Linked DNA regions of Homo sapiens: region 2 is linked to region 1. Evidence: fine-mapped expression QTL. Tissue or cell type: lung. Region 1 holds a variant in brackets; the other region holds the start of a gene. All regions are shown on one strand. Distances are between the middles of the regions.

Region 1 (9,972 bases):
CCATGTTGGTCAGGCTGGTCTTGAACTCCTGACCTCATGATCCACCCGCCTTGGCCTCCCAAAATGTTGGGATTACAGGCGTGAGCCACTGTGCATGGCCTCCTTTTTTCATTTAACAGTGTCTCTTCAGGAGGATCCTTTTTTTTTGAGACGGAGTATCATTCTGTCGCCCAGGCTGGAGTGCAGTGGTGCAATCTCGGCTCACTGCAAGCTCTGCCTCCTGGGTTCACACCATTCTCCTGCCTCAGCCTCCCGAGTAGCTGGGACTACAGGCGCCCGCCACCACGCCCGGCTCATTTTTTGTATTTTTAGTAGAGACGGGGTTTCACCATGTTAGCCAGGATGGTCTTGAACTCCTGACCTCGTGATCCGCCCGCCTCAGCCTCCGAGAGTGCTGGGATTACAGGCATGAGCCACCGTGCCCAGCCAACAAAGACTTTCTCCTATGGTTTTTCTTGAGTTTTTATCAATTTAAGTATAACGCATAGCTCCATGATTCAAGTTGGTTTTTTTGTATGTGGCGTGAGATCAGCTTGAGGTTCACTTTTTACATAGGATTATAAGGTTGTTCCAGTGCTGCTTGCTAAGAAACCTGTCTTTTATCCATTGAGTTACCTTGCTAACTACTATATACATAAAATTAATGAGAATTTCTTTTATCTGTCTTTTTTTTTTTTGAGATGGAGTTTCACTCTTGTTGCCCAGGCTGGAGTGCAATGGTGTGATCTCGGCTCACCGCAACCTCTGTCTCCCTGGTTCAAGCGATTTTCCTGCCTCAGCTTGCCGAGTAGCTGAGATTACAAGCACGCACCGCCATGCCTAGCTAATGTTTTGTATTTTAGTAGAGACGGGGTTTCACCGGGCTGGCCAGGCTAGTCTCAAACTCCTGACTTCATGATCCACCCATCTCGGCCTCCCAAAATGCTGGGATTACAGGCATGAGACACTGTGCCTGGCGGAAACCCAAATTTTAGCATTTCACACAAGGGAGAGTTCTTTCAGCTTATCCTGATTTCTTTTATGTGTTTTTCACCTTGATTTGTTACAATAATTTAGATTTAAAATTTGGCTTTAAAATTGGGTGATTTTGGCCAGGCATGGTGGCTCATGCTTGTAATCCCAGCACTTTGGGAGTCTGAGGTGGGCAGATCACCTGAGGTTGGGAGTTTGAGACCAGCCTGACCAATGTGGTGAAACCCCGTCTCTACTAAAAATACAAAAATTAGCGGCCGGGCGCGGTGGCTCACAGGCCTGTAATCCCAGCACTCTCGGAGGCTGAGGGGGGCGAATCACGAGGTCAAGAGATCGAGACCATCTTGGCTAACACGGTGAAACCCCGTCTCTACTAAAAATACAAAAAATTAGCCAGGTGTGGTGGCAGGCGCCCTGTAGTCCCAGCTACTCAGGAGGCTGAGGCAGGAGAATGGCGTGAACCTGGGAGGCGGAGCTTGCAGTGAGCCAAGATCATGCCACTGCACTCCAGCCTGGGTGACAGAGCAAGACTCCGTCTCAAAAAAAAAAAAAAAAAAAAAAAAAAAAAAATTAGCCGGCGTGGTGGCACGCACCTGTAATCCCAGCTACTCAGGAGGCTGAGGCAGGAGAATCACTTGAAGCCGGGAGGCGGAGGTTGCGGTGAGCTGAGATCATGCCATTGCACTCCAGCCTGGGCAACAAGAGCGAAACTCCGTCTCAAAATAAATAAATAAATTAATTAATTAATTAAATAAAATAAAATTGGGTGATTTTTTTTGAAGCCTGTTATGAGCTGAATGTGCACCCCCACACTCATGTGTTGAAACCCCAGCCCCCGTGTGGCTGCGTCTGGGGAGGGCCTTGAAGGAAGTGATAAAGTGAAGTCACAGGCGGGGCCCTGATCCCTGAACACGCTCGTGAGCACACAGCACCCACCACCCACTCTGCTCCCAGACTCTGAGGAGGGGCCCCCAGGGCTCACCTGCCGCCATCTGCAGGTCAGGAGGGGCCTCACCAGACAGCAGATCTGCTGGCACCTTGACCTTGGACTTCCCAGTCTCCAGAGCGTGAGGAAACTAATTTTCGTTGTTAAGCCGCCCTGCCTGTGGTATTTTGTCATGGCATCCCAAGCTAAGACAAAGCCTTAACATAAGTTTGGATATAACCTGTATATTTAGTTCCTAGAAATGCACAATTAATATGATGTGTCATCGAGGGATTTGTAAAAAAATATAAAAAGGAGTATAGTTTGGAAAAAGAGTAGAGTTTGGAAACATATCCCTTAGAGGCCTCCAGAAGAAGTCATAGGTAGCTCGACGGTCCGAATGTCACTGTCCCTGGAGACTCCCACCCGCTCCTGCCAGGCTGGACTCACCCCGTGTGCTGCCTGACGGGGGCCCTGCCCACCTGCCACACCCAGCTCTCAGCTGCTGGGCCTCACGTGTGCATGTTTGTTCCAGGGGTGTTTGCAGACGTCACCTCTGCCCCTGCTCCAAGTGCCCCCTGCCCCATGCCCCTGTGTTTCTGTGGTTCTGATCCCGATTCCTGTCAACGACCACGGTGGAAAATCCATTCTCTTGCTGTGGGAAAATATCTGCAAATCATCATCGCTCAGCGTGTTCTGGGGGTGTTTTGATATCGTGCATACAGCCCCACTAGAGGGAGGGTACTCCACAAAGCCCTGGCTGGCCTGAGCTGACACTCGGAGGAATCCGTTGAATTCATGACTCAAGTCGTCACCTTTTGTTGTTTTTGTTGTTGTTGTTAAATAGAAGCTTTACTGAGAGATGATTCACACCCCACTCACCCATTTAAAGTCTGCAGTTCAGAGGTTTTTGGTATGGTATATTCACAGCATCCTGTAGCCATCAGCACAGTCCCCTTAGAACATTTTCCTCGGCTCAGAGGGAAACCCTGCACCACTTAGCCCTCATCCGAGACCCCTCCCCAGCCCCTTTTTGCAGCCACAAACCTACTTTCTGTCTTGATTTGCCTGTTCTGGATATTTAATGGAAATGAAATGGCATGTGGCCTTCTGTGTCTGGCTTTGTTCACTCAGCAGTTTTCAAGGCTCCTCTGCGTGGTTCTGTGTCTGGCTTCGTCCGCTGAGCATGTTTTCACGGCTCCTCTGTGTGGTGGCCTGTGTCTGTTCTTCATGCCTTTTCATGGCCACATAATATTCCATTGTGGGGATGGACCTGTTATGTTTATCCATTCGTCCATCGATGGACTTGTTGGCTGTTCCACCTTTTGGCTGTTATGGATAACGTGCTACGCGCGTCCTGGACGAGGTTTTCTGTGAGCTTTTGTGTCTTCATTTCTCGTGGGTATCTGCATGCGTACATGTGGAACTGCTGGGCCCCGTGGTGATTCCTGTACCTGATGTTGTGAGGACCTGCCGACCTGCTCCGCAGGAGGGCACCATGTTACACTCTTACCAGCAAGGTTCCAGGGTTCTGATTTCTTCCCATCCTTGCCAATATTATCTGATCTTTTTTGTTGTTGTTTTTGAGATAGGGTCTCACTCTGTCACCCAGACTGGAGTACAGTGGCTCGATCACAGCTCACCACAGCCTCAACCTCTCAGGCTCAAGTGATCCTCCCGCCGCAGCCTCCTGAGTAGCTAGGACCACAGGCACAACCCACCACA[C/T]TCAGCTAATTTTGTTTTATTTTAACTTTTTGTCCTGCTGTGTTGCCCAGGCTGGTCTTGAACTCCTGTTCTCAATAGATCTTCCGGTCTTAGCCTCCCAAAATGTTGGGACTGGAAGCGTGAGCCACGGTGCCTGGCCTTTTTATATCCAGCCATCCCAGTGGGTGTGTGCTGGAACCGTGGCGTGTGCTGGAACCGTGGCGTGTGGTGGAACCGTGGCGTGTGCTGGAACCGTGGCGTGTGGTGGAACCGTGGCGTGTGCTGGAACCGTGGCGTGTGGTGGAACCGTGGCGTGTGGTGGAACCGTGGCGTGTGCTGGAACCGTATTGTGTGGTGGAATCGTGTTGTGTTTTGCGTTTCCTTAGTGATGGGTGATGCTGAGCATCTCTTCCTGTGCGTCTTGGCCATTTATACATCTTCTTTGGACAAATGTCTAGTAAGATTTTTTGCCCATTTTTATATTGAGTTACAGTATTTGCCTTTTTATTATCAGATATATAGGTTGCAATTTTTTTTTTTTTTTGAGACAGAGCGTTGTTCTGTCGCCCAGGCTAGAGTGCAGTGGTGTGATCTCGGCTCATTGCAACCTCCACCTCCTGGGTTCAAGCGATTCTCCTGCCGCAGCCTACTGAGTAGCTGGGATTACAGGCACGTGCCACCACGCCCGGCTAATTTTTGTATTTTTAGTAGAGATGGGGTTTCACCATGTTGGCCAGGCTGGCCTTGAACTCCTGACCTCAGATGATCCGCCCGCCTCGGCCTCCCAGAGTGCTGGGATCACAGGCTTGAGCCACCGCACCCGGCGTCACTTTCTTGGTAGTATCCTTTGAAGCACAGACATTTAATTTTGATGAGTCCAATTTATTTTGTTGCTTGTGCTTGGTTTTGTATCTAAGAACCTATTGCCAAATCTGAGATCATGCGGATTTTCTTCTAAGAATTTTATAGATTTAGCTCTAACGTCATTGATCCATTTTGAGCCTCTCCTCGTCTTTGCGAGATGGAAATACTGCCGCCCCAGGAGCCTCTGACTCTCAGGCCCTCGGCCCTGGAGCAGAGCAGGTACCAGGTCTGCAGCGCCTCGTCCAGGGAGGGCAACCCCGTTGTTCTGAGTTGAGCCGTCCTCCAAAGCCTTGGCTGAGACTCCACCGCAGCCATGGGACCTGGGTGGGCAGGAAAGGCCGGGCTGGGCCGAGGCTGCTGCATTGCTGGGGCAGGTGCCCGGCTCCCAGGGTGGGCTGGACTTGATGCTGCTCTGTAGCTCAGGCAGAAGCTGGTCGCTGTCCTTCTAAATGTGTCGCCTGTCCCACTTGGAGAGTCTGGGAACGACCCGTGTCTTCTGACGTGTGTCCCTCTGTCCCCAGATGCGGACCTGTCCGTCACCGAAGCCAGCAGCTCCGACAGCCGAGGAGAGAGGGCCGAGCTCTATGCACAGGTGGAGGAGGGTCTCCTGGGAGGAGAAGCCAGCTATCTGGGCCCTCCCCTCACCCCAGAGAAGGACGACGCCCTGCATCAGGCCACCGCGGTGGCCAACCTGCGCGCGGCGCTCATGAGTAAGAACAGCCTGCTGTCGCTGAAGGCCGACGTGCTGGGGGATGACGGCTCCCTGCTGTTCGAGTACCTGCCCAGAGGGGCCCACTCGCTGTCCCGTAAGTGCAGGCCCTGGGGGCCGCTTGGCTTTGGTGTGGTTTTGAAGGCTGAGGGTTGCAGGTCCCGGGCCAAGATGAGATGAGGCTGAGGGTCTGTCCCTGCTGCTCGGCCGCCTGCTGACCTCCCTGTTGCGGGAGGTGAGGATGCGGCGTCACAGCCTGGACTGGCCTCTCAGGTGCACGGGGGGCTGGCTTTAGAGTGAGGAGGGAATGGACGCGGTTGTGAGCGCGGCGGGCAGGGGAGCAGCCGAGTGCTTGCTGGAATGTTTCTCACAGGAGTCGTTGGCTGAATGCGAGCTCGTCCGGGTCGCGCAGGGGCCGGGGGTCTTTGTGCTCCAGAGACGGGCTCGGGCGCCCCCTGCCGGCCCCTCTGTCGCCTTCGTGCTGAGGCTCGTTTCGCGCAAGGGAGATGGGGGCGGCCGCTGCGAGCCGATTGCACTTGGGGGCCTCGCCTTGCGTTGCCTTCGCTGGATGATGCTGGTGGCGTGTGACTTTTAAAGATGCGTCGGAGGTTGTCTTTAAAACGTAAATGTCCCCAGCTGAATCCAAACGACGACGCGCCTGCCGAGATGTGGCCAAAAGTTCAGCCACTGCTGCGTGTCGGGCTCACCCCAGACTGACTGACTTCCTGACAAGACGGGGGCATTCAGCTTTCGGAGTTTAAAAAAACAAAGGGGCCGGGCGCGGTGGCTCACGCCTGCAATCCCAGCACTTTGGGAGGCTGAGGCGGGCAGACCACGAGGTCAGGAGATCGAGACCATCTTGGCCAACACGGTGAAACCCCGTCTCTACTAAAAATACAAAAAATTAGCCGGGCGTGGTGGCGGGCGCCTGTAGTCCCAGCTACTCGGGAGACTGAGGCAGGAGAATGGCGTGAACCCGGCAGGCAGAGCTTGCAGTGAGCCGAGATCGCGCCACTGCACTCCAGCCGGGGCGACAGAGGGAGACTCTGTCTCAAAAAAAAAAACAAAAAAAAAAACAAAAAAAACCCACCGCAGCCAGCCCCCAGCCAGCTGCCTTCTGGTCTCGCGCTCATGTGGGCCCCCGGGCAAGGCCTGGTGCTGGCACCTAGCACATAGCTGGCACTCAGCATGCGGCTGAGAGTGAGTGAGGCGCCTCCCGTTTCTCTCCAGGGGAGGAGGGAGCGAGTCCGGCATGAGATGCCCCCACCTCCGCGGCTGGGGTCCAGGCGTGCTGAGTGGTGTGGACACATTGTTTGCTGAGTATTGAGGGAAGTGAAGGAAGGAAACGTGCCAGCTGTCCTTGATGCTGGGATTTGGGAAGTATATCTGTTTCTCTGTTTCTTTACGCTGCTCTAAAAAACAATATTTTTACAACTTTGTTTTCATAAGCACTAAAATATTCTTTCGAATTTTCGCGTTGGTGTGAGCACTGATGCCAACTGTTTGTGGGTAATAAAGACTACATGTGGAAAGTGGTGTTCACCTTCCCTTTATTCCGTGTACTCAGTGAGGAGCCGTGTCCGTCGAAGGGTCTTGGCCCTGAAAGTGAGGCTCAGGGCTGAGCACTGCACAGACGGGACAAGCTGTGGGTGCTGGGCTGTCACAGACATCCTGAGGCCTCACTTCCCACATCTGAAAAACTGGGGGGGGGGGGGGGGGCGGGGGGTGCCACTTACACAGCTGTTGTGAATTCAAACAAAATAGCGTTTCTAAAATATCAAACACGGTGCAGGCAGAGTGTTTGTGATTTATGCTCCAAGATGTTGGCCCCGTCCCCTCTCAAATGCAAAAGTGTACTTGTCAGCAGAAATGGTTGGATTTGAGCAAACCCCGGGGTACTGGGGCCTTTCCAGGAGGCGGTGGCAGGGCATGTGGGCATCCTGCAGTCGGCCAGCCGGTCAGATGGAGCGCTGGGCACGTTTCGTGGGCGTCAGGAGGGACAGGCTGGGTGCGGCCAGCGGCGCATGCCCGTGGGTGCGGTCGGAGGGGGATCCCGGGCCTCCCTCACTACCCTCCCCTCCGACCGCCTTTTCACATGAGCAGCTTGGGTGCGGCCGGTGGCACATGCCCGTGGGTGCCGTCGGAGGGGGATCCCAGGCCTCCCTCACTACCCTCCCCTCCGAGCGCCTTTTCACATGAGGGGCTTGGGTGCTGTTTCCTGTGGATCTCTCAGACCGTCGTATACACTCATTCAGGGCAGGGACCCCAACACACCCAGTTCCTTTGCAGCACCCCAGGTACAGCTGGTGTGTCTTGGTCATTAAGAACGACTTTGGGAGCCTGGGCAACGTGGGGAAACCCCATCCCTACAAGAAGTTAGCCCAGCATGATGGTGCCTTGTGCCCGTAGTCCCAGCTACTCAGGCGGCTGAGGTGGGAGGATCGCTTGAGCCCAGGAGGTTGAGGCTGCAGTGAGCCATGATTGCATCATTGCCCTCCAGCCTGGGTGACAGAGTGAGACACTGTCTCAAAAAAAAAAAAAAAAGCCATTGGACTGAGGGGAAACAATTTGTTTGTGCTTTTTCTACTGTTTCTGCGTCTGACAGCCCTCCCTGGGTGTGGCTCCGTCCATGAAGCCTTTGCTGGTTTGTGTGTGCAGCAGATGGGGTCGGAGGGCACGGCTTGGCAGAAGATGTCGATTTCACCCGTGGCATACGAGCTGTGGGCCCTGTGGTGCCAGGTCTGACCTTGGGGAACACATACCCCAGCTCGGCCTTGGTGGCCCTGGCAGTTTCTCCCCTTCCTCGGGGCTTTTCTGTTCTGGGCCCCTCCTTTCCGGAAGCGAGCCCCGGAGCACGTGGAGGGAGTGGCCGCGGAGCCTGAGGCTGGGACCTTGAGTGGTTCTGGCTTTTTCCCAGGGCCTCTCCCTGCAGTGAGAGTGCTGTGTCCTCTGCATCCTGAGTGTGTCCTAAATCCTGAAGGTGGGGTGAGGGCACACCCCGCACTTCTGTGTGTGTGTGTGTGTGTGTGTGTGTGTGTGTGTGTGTGTGTGTTTTTGAGACAGGGTCTCGCTCTCTTGCCCAGGCTGGAGTGCATTGGCACTATCTCAGCTCGCTGCAGCCTCTGCCTCCCGGGCTCCAGCAATTCTCCTGCCTCAGCCTCCCAAGTAGCTGGGACTACAGATGGGTGCCCCCACACCCCACTAATTTTTATATTTTTAGTAGAGACAGGGTTTCACCATGTTGGCCAGGCTGGTCTCGAACTCCTGAGCTCAGGCGATCTGCCTGCCTCAGCCTCCCAAAGTGCCGGGTTTATAGGCGTGAGCCATCCCGCCTGGCCCCATCTCACTCAGTTTTTAGTTCATCTGTGACTAATTCCAGGTGAAGTTGGCTGGTGGGTCTTTTGTTATTTCTCTTAAGTTCTAACCTCATTTTTAATATTCTAAATTTTCTATTTCTCTTGTAAGAATTTGCCCTTTTGGGCCAGGCATGATGGTTCACACCTGTAATCTCAGCACTTTGGGAGGCCAAGGCAGGTGGATCACCTGAGGTCAGTAGTTCAAGACCAGCCTGGCCAACATGGCGAAACCCTGTCTCTACTAAAAATACAAAAAATTACCCGGGTGTGGTGGCGGGCACCTGTAATCTCAGCTACTTGGGAGACTGAGGCAGGAGAATCGCTTGAACCTGGAAGGAGGAGGTTGCCGTGAGCCGAGATCATGCCATTCCAACCTGGGCAACAAGACCGAAACTCGTCAGAAAAAAAAAAAAAAAAGAATTTGCCCTTTTGTTTTCTGTAAACACGGTTTAGAAGTTGTCAGCATCCTTCGCCTGTCGGGCTGTGAACTGGATGCCCCAGACGCCTGCCCAGCAGAGTGGCTGTAGAACTCGGCGGGGGACAGGTTATTTTAAAACGTAATTTTCTGGCATCCTGTGTGGCCCCTGCCTGTTTCCGGCATGCACTGAGGTAAATAATGGAAATACTCAGAAAAAACTTGGATTTTCCAAAGTTCTGTGGTCCTCCCTCACTGCCGTAGGCCTTCTGTCCCCGACAGGTGGTCCCGTGGAATCCGCGCGGGAGTAAACCGTGGACACCAGCGCCTGCGTCCAGGGAAGCCTTAGCCGAGGCGCCTCGGTGTGATCTGAAGGTGGGGTCCGGGGGCCTGGCCTCTCGGGGGGCTGCCGCGGTGGAGGAGCGCCTCAGAGTTCACGGCGTAGCCCCACTCGCCGGTACCCAGGTGGACGCTGATCGGGGGAGAGAACTGAGCCCCGGGGTCTGACGCCGTCTGCTGATCTGAAGCGTTGAACTCACGGACTTCTAAGTCTCTCAACACCGTGCGGGAGCGCCAGGCCCGGCGGGACCGCGTGGCCCCCCTCTCTCCCTCCCCTCCTTCTGGAGGGTCATGGACGCAGAGCCGTGTCCTCCCATTGCTGAATGTGGGGGTGACTGTGGGGGCCGGAGAGTGGGGGCAGCTCATTGCAGCTTGTGGCGTAGCCCCCCCGCCATCTTGCAGCTCTGGAAATGCGCCCCTGAGCCCCGGGGGCCGCCGGCTCCTCTCTCCTCCGCTCCCTGTCGGAAGAGAGAAGAAGACAAGAGCGGCCTCGGCTGGGCGAGGGTCCCCGGTACCCAGCCCTCAGAGCAGGAGGAACGCAGCTTCAACTCAGGCCAGCTCTGAAGAGGGCCTGGGAGGGCGAGTAGCCCCTGCTGTGGTTCGAGCGGCGTGGCTGCTGTGCCGGGCGTGGCCGGTGCTGACTTGCGACCTCCTGCTGACGTGGCCCCTGCTGTGGTTCGAGCGGCGT
Region 2 (9,972 bases), 89 kb before region 1:
CACAGCTCACTGAAGCCTTGACCTCCTGGCCTCAAGCAATCCTCTCACCTCAGCCTCCTGAGTAGCTGGGACTACAGGCACATGCCACCACACCTGGCTAATTTTTGGGGGTAGAGACAAGGTCTCACTGTGTTGCCCAGGCTGCTCTCAAACTCCTGGGCTCAAGTGATCTTCCCACCTTACCACCCTGTCCTCCTAAGGCGCTGGAATTACAGGCATGAGCCACTGCATCCAGCCAAAATAAATATGTTTAAAAGAAAACTTAAGATCCAGGACAAGAAAGATTCATGGGGTCTTAAAAATGATTATCAAGTGTTAATTCCAACAGAGACACTCCCAGCAGATGGCTGCTCAGAGGCGGTTCATGTGTGAACACTCCTCAGGGAGCACTTAGGAAGGGCCAGGCACAGAGGTATGGGAAGGGAGTCATGCCCTGTCTCCACTGCCAGGTGGCTCTGAGTCCAGTGCATGGAGCTGGGCACATACAAAGAGAACCCCGTTATCAGTCGGAACACAGAGCAGGGTAGGTGACCACCCAGGGCAATTCCTCCCGAGCGTGGCCAGTACCCTGGCCTCTCACTAATCCAAGAGGGCCTTAACTCCAATTCACCCCAGGACAGACAGCCAAGCCACAGCACCTTGGTAAGCTCAGCCCTGAGCTCCTCCTCCTCAGCCTCTGTCAGACCCTCAACAGCAGGAGTCCGGGCAGCCACACCTGTGTCGACAGGAACATCCGTCATGGAGTCAGACAGCAGACCTTTGTTAGGAGAATTCAGGTTGATATCTGCCAGAGACAAAATGAGGCCACAAAGTGTCAAATAAGTTAGTTCCAAGTAAATACGGTAGAGGTCTCTAGCAGGACAAAAGCACAGGTGGGAGTGGGTGAGACCCTGGAGACTAACACCTCTTCTCTGAAAGGTCTGTGAGGACAGCATGGGCAGTAGACGAGGGCAGCCACACCTCAGACCACCTGAGCTGAAAAGCCAATGCCACTTGTGCTGCTTCAGGGCACGACAAATGCCGGCCCAAGGCAGGCAAACCCGAATTCTGGCTTCCCAGTGAGAATACTATCGTCAGAGGCAGGAAACCCTTGCTACAGAGAAAGCAGCTCAATCTAACAGACCTTCCACCTTTTTTTTTTGATGGAGTCTCACTCTGCCTCCCAAGCTGGAGTGCAATGGTGCGATCTCAGCTCACTGCAACCTCCGTCTCCCGGGTTCAAGTGATTCTCCTGTCTCAGCCTTCGAGTAGCTGGGATTACAGGCGCACGCCACCACGCTGGCTATTTTTGTATTTTCAGTAGAGACGGGGTTTCGTCATGTCGGCCAGGCTGGTCTCCAATTCCCGACCTCGGGTGATCCGCCCGCCTTGGCCTCCCAAAGTGTTGGGATTACAGGTGTGAGCCACCATACCCTGACAAATTTCCACTTTTTTTAAAAAAAGGAACCTAATATGGTTAATATACACAATAAGCATCACTTTCCTCTCAACACATCTGACAGAGCACATGCTAAAATTACGTACTAGGAGCACATGCTGCTCATTCAGCTCCTTCAGGGAGGCAGCAAAACAAAATTCCCTTTACTTACCTCCCGATTCTCATCCCACTGCCAGAAGGCCGCCAGCAGGCAGAGAGGTGCAGAGCGGTGTGCTGCCACCACACACCTCAACTACACCCAGATCACATTCAAATTCCTGCAGCCACTGTTTTTTCTTCATGTCAAATGCATCTTCCTGACTACCCTAAAAGTCTACAAGATTTCACATAAAGAAAAACAGTCTATTTCGATTCTCTCCAAATCCAAGCACATGACTATTGTAACACTTTCCCTGTTGACCAAAACATTCTGAAAAGAAACAGGCTTACTGCCAGGCGCAGTGGCTCATGCCTATAATCCCAGCACTTTTGGAGGCCGAGGCAGGTGGATCACATGAGGTCAGGAGTTCGAGACCAGCTTGACCAAAATGGTGAAACCCCGTCTCTACTAAAAATACAAAATTAGTTAGCGTGGTGGCACGCGCCTGTAGTTCCCAGCTACTTGGGAGGCTGAGGCAGGAGAATCACTTGAACCCGGGAGATTACAGGCGTTGAGCCACCACGCGCGGCCAAAAAAAAATTCTTTAAAAAAAAAAAGAAAAACTGGTCGGGCGGGGTGGCTCATGCCGGTAATCCCAGCACTTTGGGAGGCTGAGGCGGGCGGATCACCTGAGGTCAGGAGTTCAAGACCAGCCTGGCCAATATGGTGAAACCCCGTCTCTTTTTTTTGAGACTGTCTCAAAAAAAAAAAACAAAAGAAAAGAAAAAGAAAAAAAAACTATGCCTTTTAAAAGACAACACAAAGACACCAGATTAAATGCACTTAACAAAGATACTCTTCTTAAAAGCTGGCTGCATCTCACTCCCTTCAAATGTCCCATAGGACTGGAGCCGTGTGCACTTCCTTGGCGCTCCACAAACGCTTACTAAACGAAGCGTATCCACTTTTTTATCCACTGATTCTCTTTTTTTTTTTTTTAGACGAGTCTTACTCTGTCACCCAGGCTGGAGTGCAGTGGCACGATCTCCGCTCACTGCAACCTCCACCTCCTGGGTTCAATCGATTCTCCTGCCTCAGCCTCCCAAGTAGCTGGGACTACAGGAGCACACCACCATGCCCGGTTAATTTTTTTATTTTTAGTAGAGACGGGGTTTTGGCACGTTGGTTAGGCTGGTCTCAAACTCCTGACCTCAAGTGATCCACTGGCCTCGGCCTCCCAATGTGTTAGAATTACAGGCGTAAGCCACCGAGCCCAGCCTTTCTGTTCTATTTAAAAAAAGACAAATGAGGCTGGGCACAATGGCTCACACCTGTAATCCCAGCACTTTTGGAGGCCAAGGCGGGCAGATCACCTGAGGTCAGAAGTTCGAGACCAGCTTGACCAACATGGAGAAACCTCCATCTCTACTAAAAATACAAAATTAGCCGGGCATGGTGGCGCACGCCTGTAATGCCAGCTACACGGGAGGCTGAGGCAGGAGAATCGCTTGAACCCAGAAGGCAGAGGTTGCGGGAAGCCATGATCGCGCCATTGTACTGCAGCGTGGGCAACAAGAGCGAAAATCCGTCTCAAAAAAAAAAAAAAAAGTAGAAAGACCAATTAACCTGGCATGGTGCGCCTGTAGTCTTATAGTCCCAGCTACCTGGGAGGCTGACGCAGGAAGATCGCTTGAGCCCAGGAGTTGAAGATTGCAGTAAGCTATGATTGCACCACTGCACTCCAGCCTGGGAGACAGAGGGAGACGCTGTCCCCAAAAAAAAAATTAAAAAAAAAAAAAAAAAAGGCCAGGCGCGGTGGCTCACGCCTGTAATCCCAGCACTTTGGGAGGCCGAGGTAAGCAGATCACGAGGTCAGGGTATCAAGACCGTCATGGCTAACAGTGAAACCCCGTCTCTACTAAAGATACAAAAAATTAGCCGGGCATGATGGCGGGCGCCTGTAGTCCCAGCTAGTTGGGAGGCTGAAGCAGGAGAATGGCAGTGAACCCGGGAGGCGGAGCTTGCAGTGAGCCGAGATCTAGCCACTGCGCTCCAGCCTGGGCGACAGAGTGAGACTCCATCTCAAAAAAACAAAAACAAACAAACAAAAAACACCCTCCAGAATAATGCAGCACCTAGGAATTATAAAGCTTAATATGTAGCCGGGCACAGTGGCTCACGCCTGTAATCCCAGCACTTTGGGAGGCTGAGGCGGGCGGATCACAAGGTCAAGAGATCGAGACCATCCTGGGCAACATGGTGAAACCCTGCCTCTACTAAAAATACAAAAATTAGCTGGGCCTGGTGGCGCGTGCCTGTAGTCCCAGCTACTCAGGAGGCTGAGGCAGCAGAATCGCTTGAACCCGGGAGGTCGAGGTTGCAATGAGCTGAGATCGCGCCACTGCACTCCAGCCTGGCGTCAGAGCAAGACTCCGTCTCAAAAAAATAAAGAAAGAAAGAAAGAAAGAAAGAAATTTAGCATCCCTCTCTAGAGCCCCAAAATGCAAGGCAGACTTTTATCATCTTCTCAAGATTTTAATCTCCTGGGCTCGCTCCACGCCCCTCAGTGGCCATCTCATACTGCTCTGGGGAGACTGTTCTGGAAACAGGCCTGGTATGCTGGGTGTGCCCCTGACTCACTCCACCCCCTCTCCATGAGGCAACCCCTAAGCAGGCTGAGCTCCGAGCAGAGTTGCTGCCCAAGGGGAGCTCTGCTGAACGCGAAGACCCCTTCTCTGCTCGGGAGCCGCCCTCAACACCTCGGACTGGGTCCAGGGCCAGACAGCGTGAACCCGAGGGCCCCGCGCAGGGACCGGGGGGTGGCAGAGCAAGCAAGAGCAGGGCACGGGGTGGGCGGCATAAGCGAGACCTGCTGGGAGCGACAGAACCCAAACTACGGGAGCAACGGCGGGCGCCAGGGAACCACACCTCGGAACGGTCCCAGGGGAGACCAGGAGGGCGGCTGGAGAGAGCCCAGGAAGCGGTCTGGGCCGCGGGCAAAAAACACACCACGACCATCATAAGCTTCGAGGTCAGTGGCCCCGGGAGCTGAAGAGGGGCCGCGGGGTGGGTGAACCGAGACCGAGAGGACAGAGAGTCGCAGACGCGACCCCGGGAGACGGAGAACAACGGGCAGCCTGGGCCCATCTGCGGCGAAGGGGCCGGGCCCGGCAGGTACCTTGGCCGGCGGAGTCCATGTTCGGGCGGCGTCCGGACCGCTGTCGCGGGCGCTATGGGAGCCGAGCGGGCGGCGCCGGGAGAAGCTCGCCGCGTACACACTAGCCAGCGGAACTGCCTCAGCTCCGCGGCGTTTCGTAATCCGCGATGCGACGGCTACTTCCGCCCGGGCACGTGCTCCGCCTTCTTCCCGCCCCCACCAGTGATATCCAATGAGAGTGCCGCTTGGCCCGTCCTGGTTTACCCGACTCAACCTGATAGGCCGAAACTGCGGGCGAACCAGGAAAGGGAGGCGTGGTTCGGCGGGAATCCATTCCAGGTTGACTCCACCAGCGAGAATCACAGGTAGAACGGTCAGAGTAGCGGGAGGACTGGGAAGGTGGGAAGTGGGAGGACCGTCCAACATGGCGCTGTGGAAAGCCAGCGCAGGGCCCCAGGGGATCTTCCGGGGCGGATGCAGCTGCCTAGGAGTGCTGGGGCTCGCGCGCCTCGGCGGCTCAAACTCTGACCCCTTGAGATCCTTTCCAGCCCGACCCCTTACTTTAGGGGTCAGCCTGCCCCCGTAAGTCCTGTTATTTATTGTATTTATATTCTTTTTTTAGTTGGTCCTTTTTTGTTTGTTTTTGAGACGGAGTTTCACTCTTGTTGCCCAGGCTGGAGTGCCATGGCGCGATCTCAGCTCACTCCAATCTCTGCCCTCCGGGTTCAAGCGATTCTCCAGCCTCAGCCTCCCGAGTAGCTGGAATTACAGGCGCGCGCCAACACGTCCGGCTAATTTTCGTATTTGTAGTAGAGACGGGGGTTTCGCCACCTTGGCCAGGCTGGTCTAGAACTCCTGACCTTAGGTGATCCACCCGCCTCGGCCTCCTAAAGTGCTGGGATTACAGGCGTGAGCCACCGCCCCTCACGCCTGGCTAGTTTGTCCTTTTCATGGGGACTTTTTATTGTACGCGGGTTACTCTGAAAAAGATCGCGATTCGTCCCCTCGCCCTGCAGGCGCCGCTGCCGCCTCGCCTCGGGCGTGGACCCTGCGGCTCGGGCCTGCGCGTGTGCACCCCGAGGTTGTCTCACTTCCTGTTCAGGGCGACCAGCGCTGCGCCCTCCCCACTCCACAGATGAGGAAGCTGAGGTTAAAGTCACTTGCCCCAGGTCACTCCGCAAGTTGAAGCGCAACCAGGATACTCTGGAACAGGATGCCTGACTTCAGAGGAGAGGCGCGTAACCACCAGGCAACTGGCCCCACGAAAACAAGTCCCGCAACTTCCCTTCTTTGGCTCCTACTTGCTCCCGGAAGAAAAGCCTTAAACGGTATTCAAGCCCTTTAGGATCTGATGTCCTAGGACTCCACTCTGGGCTTCCAGCCTGGGGTGGTACTGGTCCCTAGGCATGGAAGCTCCTCCCACTGCCCCTTCCTTCACCCGGCCACCTCCTCCCACAGGTGTCTTCCTGGTACTCTTGCACAGGCCCGAGTCCCTTACCACCACGGCCTTAGCCTGCTCTCGTGCTCTCAGTAATGTTTTCTCCATTTGCTGCCTTTCATTCTTTCCAGAGATTCTTGCTCAACCCAACCAGGCCAGCCCGGGGACTAGGGACATGTAGGGACAATAGTCCCTGCTTCAGGCAGTTCAGGGCAGACCACAGAGATGTGACATTACAGACCATTGTGAGCAGAGGCCTTGTCCCATTCTGTGTTGCATCCCTAAGCCAGGAACAAAGTCCAGCCCAGGCCTGGCTCCAGGGGACACGCAGTAGTATCCTCTGGCCTGTGCAAGTGTATCTGTAGCCTCACATGCCACCATGTGAGTCTGCAATCTGTCTGTGAATGCCCTGGTGTAGAAGCCAGGAGTTTGGAGGTGGGAGGGAGCCCTACAGAATGATAGCCAGTGCTAACTCCTGGGAATGTCCAGCCACTAAGACCTGCCCACAGCCCTGCCATGCCAATGTCCTCCTTTTCACGGGAGCAGCTTGCACAGACTTTCAGCGCACAGCTGGCATTGTCTTCCCAGGAGCCATCCTGTAACCCAGGCCAGGTGAAGGGCTCCTCCCTGGGACCCCACAGCCCCGTTCCCATCATCCTTTTGTGGTGATCAAGGCACCCATCACACAGTATTGCCATAAACCGGGTCAGGTTAACCTTTCATTCCCTTAGGAGCTGGGTGGGGGCAGCCAAAAGTATTTGTAGGAGGAAGAGAGAAAGGAGGGGACAGAGCTAGGAAGAATGGGAGGACGGTCAGAACGCCCCTGTGAAGGAAGGAGAGCACCAAGTCCCCGTGTTCTGCCTACCCTCCCCCAGACAGCAGATCAGGAGCACCCCGCGCGCCCCCCCCCGCCCCGCCCCGCGTCGGCGCCGGCCCCCTGCAATGGTTGGCGGTATGGGGAGGTGAACCAAGAAGGCCAGGAGTTCAAGTGCGTGATCCCCCACTGGGGCATATAGGTTACAGCCGCCAGGGCAACTGAAACTCCTCAGGCTCCAGAGGGCTGAAGTGAGTCGCCTCCACGTTCTTGAGGTGCTTCCGAGCCAGGAACAGTGCGAGGCGCCGGCGCCGCCGCGAGCTCAGGCCCTGGCCCACCAGCCATGGGAAGGCGGGTCCGTGTGGCCCCAGGGCCTCCTCGCCCTCCAGCTCCTCTTCGCAGCGTGCACGGTAGGAGCGCAGCAGCGCCAGGCACCAGTCCTCGTCCACGCGGTAGCGTGCATAGAAGGCGGCCTCCTGCGCCAAGCTGCCAGCGCGCAGCCAGCGGGTGACGACGGCGCGGCCCTCTCGCGCCATCACGACGGGGTAGCGGTGCTCCAGCAGGCGCAGCAGCAGCTCATTGCCCCGGTTGCCCTCCACGTCACCAGGTGACAGGGGGCGCAGGCGGCCCGAAGTGCTGACCACGTCATCCTGCGTGCGTCGGAGCAGCAGCACCGGCCCCGGGTAGCAGCACAGCTGCTCGGCCACGTTGAGGTTGAAGTGCTCGCGCACGGTGCGCACCACCAGCCCCTTCCAACTGTGGGGCATGACCTTCAGCGCCAGCGGCACAAGGTCGTCGAAGGTGGCGTCCAGCACCAGTGCACCCAGCTCCGGGTAGGTCATGGTGGCCCAGGTGGCCGTGAAGCCGCCAACAGACCAGCCGTAGACCACCAGGTGCGCGGGCGGGAAGTGCAGGCGGTGCAGTGCGTACTCGACCACCACGTCCATGGCGTTGGCGTCGTGCTGAGGGAAGGGCACGCCAGTGCTGCTGCCGAAGCCGGGGTGGTTCCAGCCCAGCACGGAGTAGCCGGCCTCGAGCGGTGCAGACAGACAGCCCATCTCGTAGAAGCCCGCGTTGCCTTCGCAGCAGATGACGAGGCGCGGCCCGTGCACGTGGCTGCCCGGGTGCTGGCGGCGGTCCATGAACATAGTGTCGATCTCGTTGCCGTCACAGGCCACCAGCTTGGCGCGCCGGCCGTGGTAGCGCTCCACGAGGCGCTCTTGGCCCTGCTGCAGCAGCGGCAGCAGCGCGCGCGTCATCAGGGACACGGAGCCGGGGTACACGAGCCAGCGGCCCAGCGAGTGGGCCAGCGCGTAGCTAGCGAGCTGGCCGGGCAGCTCGCGGAGCTGCTGCAAGAGGCACTGCGCCTGGCTGCGCGCCCCACGTGGAGGCCGCCCCAGCGCATCCCCGCCCAGCGTCTCGTCCCGCAGCAACCACACGCCCGCCGCGGCTGCCGCGCAGGTCAGCGCCCGGTGGCTGCTGCTCCGGCCCACGGCGCGCACGTCATCCCAGCGGAAGGCCACGGGCCAGCCGCGGAATGGGTAGGTGTAGCTGGCGGTCAGGTAGATCTTGAACACGCGCACCAGCGCCTTCACGAAGCAGATGACGCACATGAGCGGTGGCCCTAACGCCCAGCCGCTGGGCCGGGATCGCCGCGAGAGGCACAGGGCAGTCTTAGGGGATACCGGCTCCCGGACAAGCCCTGATGGCCTTTGTGACCTGGCCTTCCAGGGCGGAGGGAAGGCTGCATCCTGTTGCTAGGTGATGGGTGCACAAAGGGTTCCCAGAGATGATGAACCCAAGGTTCTGCCCGTCCCCCGCCTTCGCCAAGACCCCACCAGCTAAACGCTCCCAGGCCCAGCTTTCCCACCCATGATTTGAGCAGCTACTGTCTCCCTCTTTCTTCCTTATTTATTTATTAAATTGAGATGGGGTCTCACTATGCTGCCTAGGCTGGTCTTGAACCCCTGGGCTCAAGCGATCCTCCCGCCTCCACCTCCCACAGTGTTGGGATTACAGGTGTGAGTCCCTGCACCCCGCCTCCACCTCCCACAGTGTTGGGATTACAGGTGTGAGTCCCTGCACCCCGCCTCCCTCTTCCTTAAATTTAAGATGGACAGCCCCACGGGCCAAAAAGGGACAGCAAGGCCTCCTCCGCCTGTACCAGGCTTGCTGTGGGTCCTGCAAGTTTCCCTTCAGGGTCTGCTGGTTTAAACCTCATCTCCCCAGGACGGCCGGGGTCAGAGACAGGGCTGCTGCTGCACCAAAAAGGCGGTATTTGCTCTCGGCCCGGCCCCTCCTCTCCACACCTTCCTTCTTCGGTGCTGACCAGAAACAAGCCCTCTCCTTTTCTGGATCCTCTTTTCACTGGCTGCCAGCAACAGCAGTGACCTTCTGGGGCGGGTCCTGCCTGGCTGGGGTTCCTCTTTCTCGCTCCTGGGTCGAGCCCCCACTCCCAGGCTGCGCCTCCCTCTTTTCTGGAGAGGTATCTTTTCTCCTGCCCTGGAAAGGGCCAGCCCACCTGAGGGCAGGGTCGGAAGCCGCCTGCCAGGAGGAGCCCCAGGGAAGAGGGCAGCTCCAGGTACTCAACAGCTCCCCAGACCAGAAACAAACATGCTACAATCAGGGAGTTTGGCAAATCCAGCCAGAGCCTCTGAGCCCAGGTGCCAGGCCCGCCTGGGACCCCAGCCTTCTGGGGAAGGGGTAGTTTCAGGCTGAAGCACCCCCTCTCTGCTCTCCTGCTCAGCGTCTGGGTTAGAGGCACTGCCTGACCCTAACAGGCCCCGCCCCTAGTTGGGGGAGTCAGCTGCTGCCTTTAGGGGTTGGGGGACAGAAGACAGGGACCAATTAACAAAGGGAGCGATTTGGGGGGCTATTACCCCCATTCTAGGTTGCCAGATAAAATACAGAATAATATGCCAGTTAAATTGGAATTACAAATAAACAAATACTTTTTGGGTATAAGTATGTTCCAACTTCTGCTTGAGACATTATTTTAAAATTGTTTATCTGAAATTCAAATTTAACTGGATATCCTGTTTTTTCT

Evidence for each region. PIP is the estimated chance that this variant, and not a neighbour inherited with it, causes the effect.
Region 2: it holds the start of TPD52L2, and the variant in region 1 is fine-mapped to the expression of TPD52L2 in lung (TOPMed, PIP above 0.99).

The regions. Positions count from the first base shown.
Region 1 is chr20:63,770,977-63,780,948 of GRCh38, reverse strand. It overlaps ZBTB46 (zinc finger and BTB domain containing 46), which reads left to right. Exons shown (of 5, transcript NM_001369741.1): 3 at 4,987-5,271. LOC124904956 (a long non-coding RNA gene) reads left to right here and starts at 8,900. Exons shown (of 2, transcript XR_007067720.1): 1 at 8,900-9,139; 2 at 9,228-9,972. RefSeq lists enhancers at 2,492-3,029, 7,630-8,546. The variant C/T (reference allele first, on the strand shown) is at 3,623.
Region 2 is chr20:63,860,108-63,870,079 of GRCh38, reverse strand. TPD52L2 (TPD52 like 2) reads right to left here and starts at 4,810. Exons shown (of 7, transcript NM_003288.4): 1 at 4,696-4,810; 2 at 639-784. The coding sequence starts at 4,714. ABHD16B (abhydrolase domain containing 16B) reads right to left here and starts at 8,582. Exons shown (of 1, transcript NM_080622.4): 1 at 7,092-8,582. The coding sequence starts at 8,539. The coding sequence ends at 7,130. ABHD16B-AS1 (ABHD16B antisense RNA 1) reads left to right here and starts at 5,007. Exons shown (of 2, transcript NR_165314.1): 1 at 5,007-5,256; 2 at 5,810-8,865. RefSeq lists enhancers at 3,359-4,078, 4,800-5,520, 4,560-5,759, 5,853-6,082 and a silencer at 5,343-5,392.